Regions from separate parts of the Homo sapiens genome. Here region 1 is linked to region 2. The links come from fine-mapping of genetic effects on gene expression. A gene starts in region 2. The other region holds a variant in brackets. All regions are shown on one strand. Distances are from middle to middle.

What was found. PIP is the estimated chance that this variant, and not a neighbour inherited with it, causes the effect.
Region 1: its variant is the best candidate, but not a certain one, in a credible set for the expression of STRA8 in subcutaneous fat (GTEx, PIP 0.80).

The regions. Positions count from the first base shown.
Region 1 is chr7:135,314,635-135,320,007 of GRCh38, forward strand. LOC107984123 (a long non-coding RNA gene) reads right to left here and starts at 3,099. Exons shown (of 6, transcript XR_007060540.1): 1 at 3,006-3,099. The variant G/A (reference allele first, on the strand shown) is at 2,206.
Region 2 is chr7:135,230,701-135,236,073 of GRCh38, forward strand. STRA8 (stimulated by retinoic acid 8) reads left to right here and starts at 3,138. Exons shown (of 9, transcript NM_001394401.1): 1 at 3,138-3,203.

The DNA of each region.
Region 1 (5,373 bases), 84 kb after region 2:
TCTCTGAACATACTCATTTTCCTCTCCTTTCTGTGTGCTTGATTGTTTATCTCTGTATTGTTCACCTAATTGTTTATAAATATACCTTTTGTTGTAAACTTCCTCAAGTCATCTAGGCAAAGAGGGGGGCATAGAAATGAACAGCAGGGACACAGGATGCTAAGAGTCCTGTGTGTCGGTGAGGAAGGGCTTAAAGACATTCACAGAAACAAGGAACAGCCCGGAGATAGCTTAGAGCCGGGTTTCTCAGTTGCGAGCAGGAGATGCCTCATCTCAGAGCATATGAGAATATGGGTAGGCCAGGCACGGTGGCTCACGTCTATAATTTCAGTGCTTTGAAAGGCCGAGGTGGGAGGATCTTTTGAGCCCAGGAATTCGAGACCAGCCTAGGCAACATAGGGAAACCCTGTCTCTACCAAAAAAAAAAAAAAAAAAAAATCAAATATATACACACATATATATATATATACATACATATACACACACACACACACACGTGTATGTGTGTGTGTGCGTATGAAGTACTTTTTAATTCCACAGAATCCCTTGCTGGGAGGAGTCTGTGTGTGTGACTCAAAGCAGCAGAAGAAAGCTTGCAAGCCCCTTTTTGGAGGAAGAATGAATTCTTCATGAAGCACTTCCCGACATTGAGAATGGTATGAGAATATGAGCCATAACCTCCTCTTCTGGTTGGAGGAGTCTGTCAACTCAATGCATGGATTGTAATTTTACCATAAGACTTGATCAAAAGAGGCATCCTGATTGAGGTTTGGAATTTTATAGCACTTTACAGTTTACAAAGAGTTTCCAATACATCTCGTTTAGGCCAGGCGCAGTGGCTCATGCCTGTAATCGCAGCACTTTGGGAGGCCAAGGCAGGTGGATCATTTGTGGTCAGGAGCTCGAGACCAGCCTGGCCAACATGGTGAAACCCCATCTCTACTAAAAATACAAAAATTAGCCTGGAGTGGTGGTGCCGGCCTGTAATCTCAGCTACTTGGGAGGCTGATGCAGGAGAATTGCTTGAACCCAGGAGGCAGAGGTTGCAGTGAGCCAAGATTGCACCACTGCACTCCAACCTGGGAGACAGAGTGAGACTCTGTCTCAGGGGGAAAAAAAGAAAACATCTCATCGAAGACTCACCATCATCTTATTGCTTCCCTCTGACAGATGAGGAGATTGAGGCTCCCTGAGGTTACAAGGCTTGTCTGAGGTCCACCAGAGGAGGAAGGTTCCACATAGGGACAAGTAGAGTTGAGGTCTGTCATCTGGTGTGGCCCTGGGCATACAGAGACAGTCCTCCAGCTCCCGGGAACAGACTAGCAGAGCAGGAGGCGGCACTGATGTGCAGAGAGCAGTAATGACAAGGCTGGGGATTTCTTGGGGGAAGGTGAATGCCTTTCCCCCTCTGACACCATCTATACCCAATACAGCCTTTCCTTCTTTCCAGCCTCCAAGGCTCACCTGACCTAGGCTCGTTTCCTAACACTCCCGTTCACCTGGCTCTCCCCAGTGGGTTTGTCCAGGTTTCTCCCAATGTGGCTTCCATGGTCCTGCCTCAGTGCCTTTTGTCACCCTGGGCCCCCCTCCATCTCCACCACCTGCTTCTTGTACTCGCGGCCTCCTTGGAAGAGCTCAAATTCCTCCCCCGTCACCTTTCCTGATTCCCCACCTGCCTGTGGCCTTTATCTCTGGTGCATCATGTGCCATTTTCTGCCTTGTATCAGAGATATTTTTCAGATGCCGCCTCTTCCTGCTTTTGCCTAGCTGGGCCATAAGCTTTCAGGGTCGGGAAGGTGCCTTCCCCCAGTTTATAACCCAGTTCCAGCAGAGCAACGTGCTCCCCAAAACCAGCAGCATCTCAGAATGGTGACTTCGTCATCTGGGTGCTGCTCTGAGGCTGTGAGAAAAACAGCAGGAAGAAAGGCCACTGAGAAGGAGAGGGATAGGTGCCCAGAACCCCCACTCTCAAGTTTGCCTCAGGGAAGCCAGAAATGTAGGAACACACAACTGTCTCCAGAAAATGGAATCTTCAACTCATTTCCCAAGTTTTTGTGTCGTTGCTGTTTAGGGGTTGTTTTTGGCTCCCGAGAGCTAGTGGCACCTCCGCTGAGTGACGTGAGTTCTTTGGTGCCTCCCACACTTTCTCAGAAGAGAATGCATGTGGCTCTTTGCTGGAAGGCTGACCAGCAGCAGGCAGGGGCC[G/A]GCAGCCATGCTCCAGGGAAGCCTGAGAGCCCAGCCTGGATCGTGGGTGGTCCCTGTCCCCAGACATCTGGCCTGGGCCTGATTAGGGCTACAGAACTGGCCCATGCAGTGGGTATTGGCAAGAACAGAGGGTCTTCCCGCCCGGGTCCACCCTGTTATGTTCAAGTGGCCAAAACAAGTTGGAGGGGGTGGTGGGGCCAGGGCTCAGGGCCCAGCTAGACAGATCATCAGATGAGTCACTGTGACTTGACTTCTCTGGGCCTCAGGTCTCTCATCTGTAAAATGGGAACAGAAGTGCCTGTTTCCATTGGCTTGTTTGGAAGAAAATAAAGTTCAGAAAGTGCTTAGGGCATACTGGCTGCTCAATAAAAGTGACTTCTTTCTCTCTCACACTTTGCTTCCATTCAGAGAAAGCTTCTGAAAAGAGAAACTGAAATGCAACCTGGAAAACAGGCCTTCAGATTCAACAGATCCACCCTGTGCATTAGGGTGTCGCAAACGGGATCAGTTGCTGGGATTACCAGGAAATCCAATCTTCTAAATCTTCCCCCCTCCTTTGTAATTTACCGTTTATTCGGGGCGGATTCTGTGTCTGTTGTGATGGTGACCACAGGTGACACTAAGGGGCACTAACGCTGGAGGTGGGGAGGGAGTGCTGCATGGGTCTCATCATCTGAACCCTGATCTAAAGCATGAGGCTAGGCCTTAGCACTAAGAAGGAGTCAGGGCAGTAGGACCTCCCCGCAGCCCTTCTTCCTGCTCCCCATCTTTCTCTCCCTCTGTCTCCCACCGGGCCTTACCGAGTAAGTGGAGTGCTCACGGCTAGTGACGGCGGAGTTCATGGCAACTGGGGTCTTCTTCTGGCTTCCTCTGGGGAAGCAGGACAGGGAACACCAAAAAAAAAAAAAAAAAAAAAGTGAAGCTGCCTCAGGAGCCAGAGATTAATTTCTCTAGGCAGGACTCTGCACCAAGGGCGGGTCCTGGGACTACCCAGGCAGCCCTCAGGAGGGAGGGGCCTCCAGCTCCTACGTGCCTGCTCCTCTAAAACAGACTCCCGCTCCAGCCTGTCCTGCAGGGAACCAAGGTGCATTCGGTTGCAGGAAATGTTTCATAAGTTTCGGTAGCTGCAGAGGAGTTAATGATCCCCCACAGCACTCAGGAAACCAAGGGGAGGACAGCCCATCAGGGTGTAGCAGAAGAGCACTTTCTGGAAACCAGGTTCGAGGGGGCAGAAAAGGAGGGGGATGAGGGTGAGGCTCTGGCTGGAACATCGAGGCTTTTCCATTTTCTAAGCTGATTCCTTGTGACTGGTTGAGCTGAATGGAAATCGTTGCAAAATAGCTGGAACAGCGTGACCCCTGAGATGCCTAATGAGATGATTAATAGGGAAGAAGATTACGCCTTGTCCTGGCCACAGCTGCTAAGGCTTATGGGTAGGGCAAAGGCCTCACAAGGCTCAGGTGAGAGCCTGAGAGACAAATGCTTCTAATCCTTCATGCTTGTTTCCCAAAGACCCAGAAACACCTGATAATCTGCCTTCTAAAGACAGAAGTCCAGGAAGGTGTAGTTTCGCTGTTATTCTGCACAGAACACTTGAAAGCCCGTCCTCAAAAGCTCTTGATCAAACCCCACTTCATGAAGTCCAAAGCAAGCAAATACCAGCTCCTCATGGTGGCAGAATGTTCTGGAAAGGGTGGCACTGGCTCCCAAGGTTCACGAAGTGCATGACAGGACCCACATAAAGTCAACGGGAGTTGGTCCAAAAGGAAGCCCTGAAAAACATGACGATGAGATTGTGGAAGGAAAATAAATCTTGGGACCCCAAATCACTAAGCCAAGGGCAAAGTCAAGCTGGCCTCAGGCAAACCTGCCTCCCATTTTTTCCTAAATAAGATAGCTGCAAAGATAAAAACGCTGCATACCTCACTCGCAATTTGCCCACGAGGAAACTCCTTGTGGACCTCAAGATCTTTACCCTGAAACAGCTCTGTGGAATTTCACCCTAGGAGTATAAACTGACAGCTGATCTTCATAGGTGCAGGACAGAAAGTCATCCCTCTGCTCACCAGAGACAAATACATGTCTGATTGCTTCCTCTGCCCTATTGTTTATGTAAAAATGCAGATTCTGGCTGGGCTCACACCCATAACCCCAACACTTTAGGAGGTCCAGGCTGGTGGATCACTTGAGGTCAGAAGTTCGAGATCAACCTGGTCAACATAGCGAAACCCCATCTATACTAAAAATAAAAAATTAGCTGGGTGTGGTAGTGCACACCTATAGTCCCAGCTATTTGGGAGGCTGAGGCAGAAGAATCACTGGAACCCTAGAGGCGGAGGTTGCAGTGAGCCAAGATGGTTCCACTACACTCTAGCCTGGGCAACAGAGCAAGACTCTGTCTCAAAAAAGAAAAAAAATGCAGATTCACTGAGCCAAACTAAATTATGTATTCAGTGAAAGGCTGATCAAGGATGCAAAACAAAGCAAACTTATCTACGCCCTATGACCTGGAACCCCCCCCCCCGCACCCACCACCATGTCTCCCTAAAATGTATAAAACCACCTTGGGCACATGTCCTCAGGACCTCCTGAGGCTGTGTCACAGGCACATTCTTAAACTTGGCAAAATAAACTTTCCAAGTTGATTGAGGAGACCTGTCTTAGATATTTTGGATTCAGAAGATGTTTGAAGAAGGAGAAGACAGATTAGGCTTGGGCTGTGACAGAAAAACCAAGATGAAGAGACAGTCAAAAGCTGCTAAGTCACTGACTGTTACTGAACACTTGGCTTTGTACACCATGCTCTGCCTTTATATGTACTCTCTTATTTCATCTTCATGACACACCTGGCATTCACATCTTTATTTATAGATTAAGAAATTCAGAGAGTTGGGCCCAGTGGCTCACGCCTGTAATCCCAGCACTTTGGGAGGCCGAGGCAGATTGATCTTGAGGCCAGGCGTTCAAGACCAGCCTGGCCAACACGGTAAAACCCCATCTCTACTAAAAATACAAAAGTTAGGCATGGTGGTGCGCACCTGTAGTCCCAGCTACTCAGGAGGTTGAGGCAGGAGAATCGCTTGAATCCGGGAGGCGGAGGTTGCATTGAGCCGAGATCATGCCACTGCACTCCAGCCTGGGTGACAGAGTGAGACTCTGTCTCAAAAA
Region 2 (5,373 bases):
TCTTTCTACATTTTGAAGCACTTTCACTTATACATTAAACCCTTAAAATAGAAACTCCAAAAGCAGTCCCTTGGAAGTTGCTGCTGAGTTGTGATGACAGTATGAGTCTTTGGGAATTTTCACTATGGAGGTCTGGGGAGGGTGGGGACTCTCACCCTGGGACATGTCTTGATGGGGTCATACATCTGCCCTCCTATAGCAGGAAGTGCCCAGCCATACTGACCCAGCAATGCTCCCCATAAAGGAGTTTACTGTATCTGCAGGGTCCCTTGGAAGCCAATGTCTAGCCCCATGCAAAGGACACGGTGAGCAAAAGCCTATCTAGGATTGTGTCTCAGGCTCATCTTGGCAGAAGTGCTGGGAGCCCCTGACTGCAGTCAGAGAGTGCATCCCTCCATTGTGTCTCTGCCTTTTTCATTCTTTCCTGGGAGCCACCATCTGCAGACCTCAGCTCAAAGCTGAGGGTTTTTTGTTCTAAAAGTTACAAAATCTTGCATATATCTCTCTGTCCTAAGGTAGTTGATATTTAAGGGACCAAATGCCCCCCAAGGGGGCATGGAGTGCAGAGGACCAGAGAGAAGATCTTGAGCAAGTCCCTGGCCCTCTCTGAGCCTGGGGAGAAGACTCTTCACAGAGTTGTCCCTGAGGATGCTGAGCACAGTAAAGTCTCAGTATAGGATCCATCACTCTCATTTTAATTGGGGGATAAAAAGATAATACAGCCTGAAGTCCCGGCCTTTTATTTCATGAAATGGATGGACACTAACAAGGAGAATAAATTCAGAGGGTTATTCCTTCTACCAGAAAGTTAGGCCAAGGGGCGCAAAAAGGGGTGGCCATCCCGAGTTGGTATGAATGCAGGGATCTTGGAAGGCTTCCTGGGTGTTGAGCTGGATCTGCAAGGAGGGCATGTTCTCCAACTGGGAGAGAAGGAGAATATTTCCCGGCAGGATCTCTGCTGGGGTGGAGTATTTCAAGACAGGATCTATGCCACTGTGCTGGAGGAATTTCAGGGCAGAATCTATGTTGCTGGAGGAATATTTCAGAGAAGGATCTATGTTATTGTAGGGGGAGGGCATTTCTGGACAGGATCTATGTTCCTGTGGTGGGGAGGGAGTGTATTTTAGGGCAAAAGTTTTGCTACTGGGAGGAAGGGGTCAAGGTCAGAGGGTGGTGGTGTGTGTGGGTGTTACCAGGGATAACTCTTCATATCCAGAGCTAGTGAGAGGCCACCAGGAGGCCCCCAGTGTTCATGGCAGAGCCTTCTGCCTTGCAGCTATGGGGAAGATTGATGTGGACAAGATCCTCTTTTTCAATCAAGAAATCAGGCTGTGGCAGGTAAATAAGCTTCTTAGTAACTTTCCCCCCAGGACTACATTTTTTCTGGGTGCACATCTGCTTGTGTGTGTGGCAGTGGTTGGGGCGGGAGGTGGGGTGACTACATGAAAGGTTGAGGCAGGTCAGAGGTCAGTTTCCAAACCACTCTGTGTCATCTTGGTGCGAGGATAAGGCTCCCCAAGACAGAGCTTCACAAACCCCTAGGTCCCCAGCAACACGGCAGGTAGGGCTGGTGGTGGGAGGTTGGTGGTGGGAGGTGTGGGCAGGCCCAGGAGAGAAAAGTCAGGGAGTGGGGGTGGAGTGGGGTGGTGACAATTTCCTTAAAGCCCTGAGCGACCCTAGGTCAAGGGCTGCGTGACAGCCAGAAATGGGGCAGCGACCCAAGCAGAATTTTGGAGTGAAATGAACATTTTAAATTTTCCTAGAAAGGCCTGTCTCTACAAAAAAATTAAAAATTAGCATGGTGTGGTGGTGCGGGGCTGTAGTCCCGGCTACTCAGGAGGCTGAGGCAGGAGAATCGCTTGAGCCCGGGAATTCGAGGCTGCAGTGCACTCCAACCTGGGCGACAGAACGAGAACCTGTCTCAGGAAAAAAAAAATGCTAGAAGGGGAGAATGAGAATTGACCCTTACTGGAAGGTTTTTCTGTTTTTATGTGACGGTTTCTTTATATGTGGGACATCATCTCACTGACGTCAAACTTCATGAGTGTCTAAGCCTCCCAGGTACCCTACTGCGTGCTTTCCGTAGCGGCTCGTTGATAGTCCTCTCAGTCCCTGCGAGGTGGATTCTAATCCAGAATCCCCTGCTACGCCTGCTAAGCCTGTGACCCCTGTTTCACCCCTGCCTCAGGAGTGAAGGAGCTCACCCATCAGATGGCAGCAAGGGGGCGCCTGGGCGGAGCCATGCTTCTTGCACCGTGCACTGGCCCTGAGCCGGGCACTTCAAGGGGCTTTGTCCTGCATCTGCTACCAAATGTGTAGGGCCTCGCTAGTACCCCCACCAGTGTCAACCAGATATAGTGGGATCATGAGCATCACGAAATATTGCAGGATATAAGCATACAAGCAAAAAGAAGCCTAAACGAGAGTACATCTATATTTGGGAAGGAAAAATGAATTTTTTTTCCAAACTGAAAGAATACCTACTTCCTACTACCCAGAGTGAACCCCTTTTCTCTCTTATTCTTGATATTTTAATCTGAGCTATTAAAGGTCCCTTCTCTCCACCCCATTTTCTCCCCCCATCCTCTATTTCTTCCTGCCTTATTTAAAATGCTATTTCCCTTTCTCCCTTTTATGCGTTTATTTCCTTCATGCCGTTTTCTCATGTTTTCGCTTGAGGCAGCGAGCCTGGTATTTTGATTCCTTTATCTAAGGGGTTTTCCGTAACCCTCAGGACAACCCTGTAAGCTGGTGGCATTGCCCCATTTGAGAGATGAGAAAACTGGGGCCCAGTGCCAGGTGAGTGGAACCAGCTGGAGGGCATCTACTTAGTCCTCTGAGGACACATGAAGGCTGTGTGGAGCCCCCGAGCTGATTACTGACGCGAGGGTCCCCTCCCTGACCCCTCGCGACCCTGCGAGGTGAGTCAGCCCCGCCCCTCCCTCTTCTCTCTCCTCCCTTTTCTGTCGCCTTCGGACAACTTGTAACACTGTTTCTTCCACTGCCCACACGCCCATTGGCCCGTCACCACGCATCCCCATTGGCTGTGGCGGCCAGGGACAGGGCCGCGATTGGTCCCCACCCCTGTAACGAGGTGCCAGGTCTGTTTTCTGACCCAGACAGGAACCGCGATCCCCACTCCGGCGCACGAAGCCGGGTGACTGCTGTCCCGGGAGTGGGGACGTCGCGTGCACCGTTGGCGAGTAAGTATCCTTTGAACGCTCCTCTCCAGAAAGGTGCCCTTGGGCATATGAGTGTTTGTGTAGACTTGAAAGAATTCAGTGCAGCGGAGCCTAACAGGTGAACTTTTAGCGCGGGGTTCACAGGAGCCTTTTGTATCCGTCACTGTGGCTACCTACATTTTTGAGAGTGATTCTGGATGATGATGATGATGATGATGATGATTATTATTATTATCATTTTGAGACGGAGTTTCGCTCTTGTCACCCAGGCTGGAGTGCAATGGCGAGATCTCAGCTCACTGCAACCTCCGCCTCCCGGGTTCAAGCGATTCTCCTGCCTCAGCTTCCCGAGTAGCTGGAACTACAGGTGTGGGCCACCACGCCCGGCTAATTGTTTGTATTTCTAGTAGAGACAGGGGTTTCACCGTGTTGGCTGGGCTGGTCTCGAACTCCTGACCTCAGGTGATCCGTCCACCTCGGCTTCCCAAAGTGTGGGATTACAGGCAGGAGCCACGGCACCCAGCCAATTCTGGATTATTTTTACATAATTTGATATAGATAGAAAATCAAAGGAAGCTGTCTGTGGGTTGTAGTACATTATGCAGTGTATTATACTGTCTGGGGCTTGCTAATGAGAATGGATCACACTCAAATATTTTGTGGACTGATGCTTAAAAATGAACATTTCTCTGAAATTTGGAGAAGGTGAGGGCATTTTTTTTAAAGTTTAGTCTAGGGAGTTTTTTAAACGTCAGCTCTGAGTGGATATTAAAAAGTGTTTTAATAGGAAAATATGTGGTAATGAAAGTATGCTCTGCTTTATAGAGGACAATTAATAAAAATATGTCATGTGACAGTGTTAATCCTCACAAAATGCCCTTTTAGAAGAAGGTATCAACGAAGCTGCCTCCTAACTTTGTTAGACTGAAAGGTTATGTTTGGCAAGCTGATCTCATGAACAAGGTCGAACACAGCAATAAGTTTTGGTTTTCTTTGTTCACTTGTTTGCTTTTAGACAGAATCTCACTCTGTCACCCAGACTGGAGTGCAGTAGCATGATCTCAGCTCACTGCAACCTCTGCTTCCTAGGCTCAAGTGATCCTCCCAACTCAGCCTCCTGGGTGGCTGGGACTACAGGCACATGACGCCCAGATAATTTTTGTATTTTTTGTAGAAATGGGGTTTGGCCACGTTGCCCAGTCTGGTCTCAAACTCCTGAGCTCAAGTGATCCTCCTGCCTCAGCCTCCCAAAGTGCTAGGATTACAGGCAAGAGCCACTGTGCCTGGGCAGCAATACGTTTTTTAAAGGGGAAAATATGTTAGAGCTATGGCCATTCTGAAAGGCCTAGTATTATTTTGGGCTCCAGTTTCCTGCAGAATAAATGGGCTTTGCACAGAGAGAGTGTTCAGTAAACATTTGTTCATAAACATAAGGAAGTCTCCAAAATTCCTTAAGATGAAGCTTCTCATACTGCTATGTGCTCCATACCCCACTTCTATTGGTTATGAGTGGCTTTTTTTTTTTTATTGCTCCAGATACTCATAGAATCATGAGCATGACTTTTTTTTTTTTTTTAAGACAGAGTTTCACTCTTGTGGCCCAGGTTGGAGTCCAGTGGCACGATCTCAGCTCACTGCAACCTCCAACTCCTGGGTTCAAGTGATTCTCCTGCCTCAGCTTCCTGAGTAACTGAGATTACAGTTGCTTGCCACCACGCCAGCTAATTTTTCTATTTTTAGTAAGAGACGGGGTTTCACCATGTTGGCCAGGCTGGTCTTGAACTCCTTACCTCAGGTGATTCACCCGCCTTGGCCCCCCAACATGCTGGGATTACAGGTGTGAGCCACCGCGCCCAGCTGATCATGACCTTTTAAAAATAAAAACGTTCAGACTATAATCTAGTTAAAGAATTTTTACCTCCTTTATGCAGATAAAGAAATTAAGGCCAAACATGGTGGCTCATGCCTGTAAAGCCAGCACTTTGGGAGGCCAAGATAGGAGGATCATTTGAGCCTAGGAGTTCAAGACCAACCCGGGCAACATAGTGAGACCCTGTCTCTACAGAAAAATTAACCAGGCCCAGTGGTGCACGTCTGTAGTCCTAGCTACTCAGGAGGATGTGGTGGAAGGATTACTTGAGCCTAGGAGTTTGAGGCTGCAATGAGCCATGAGCTTGCCACTGCCCTCCAG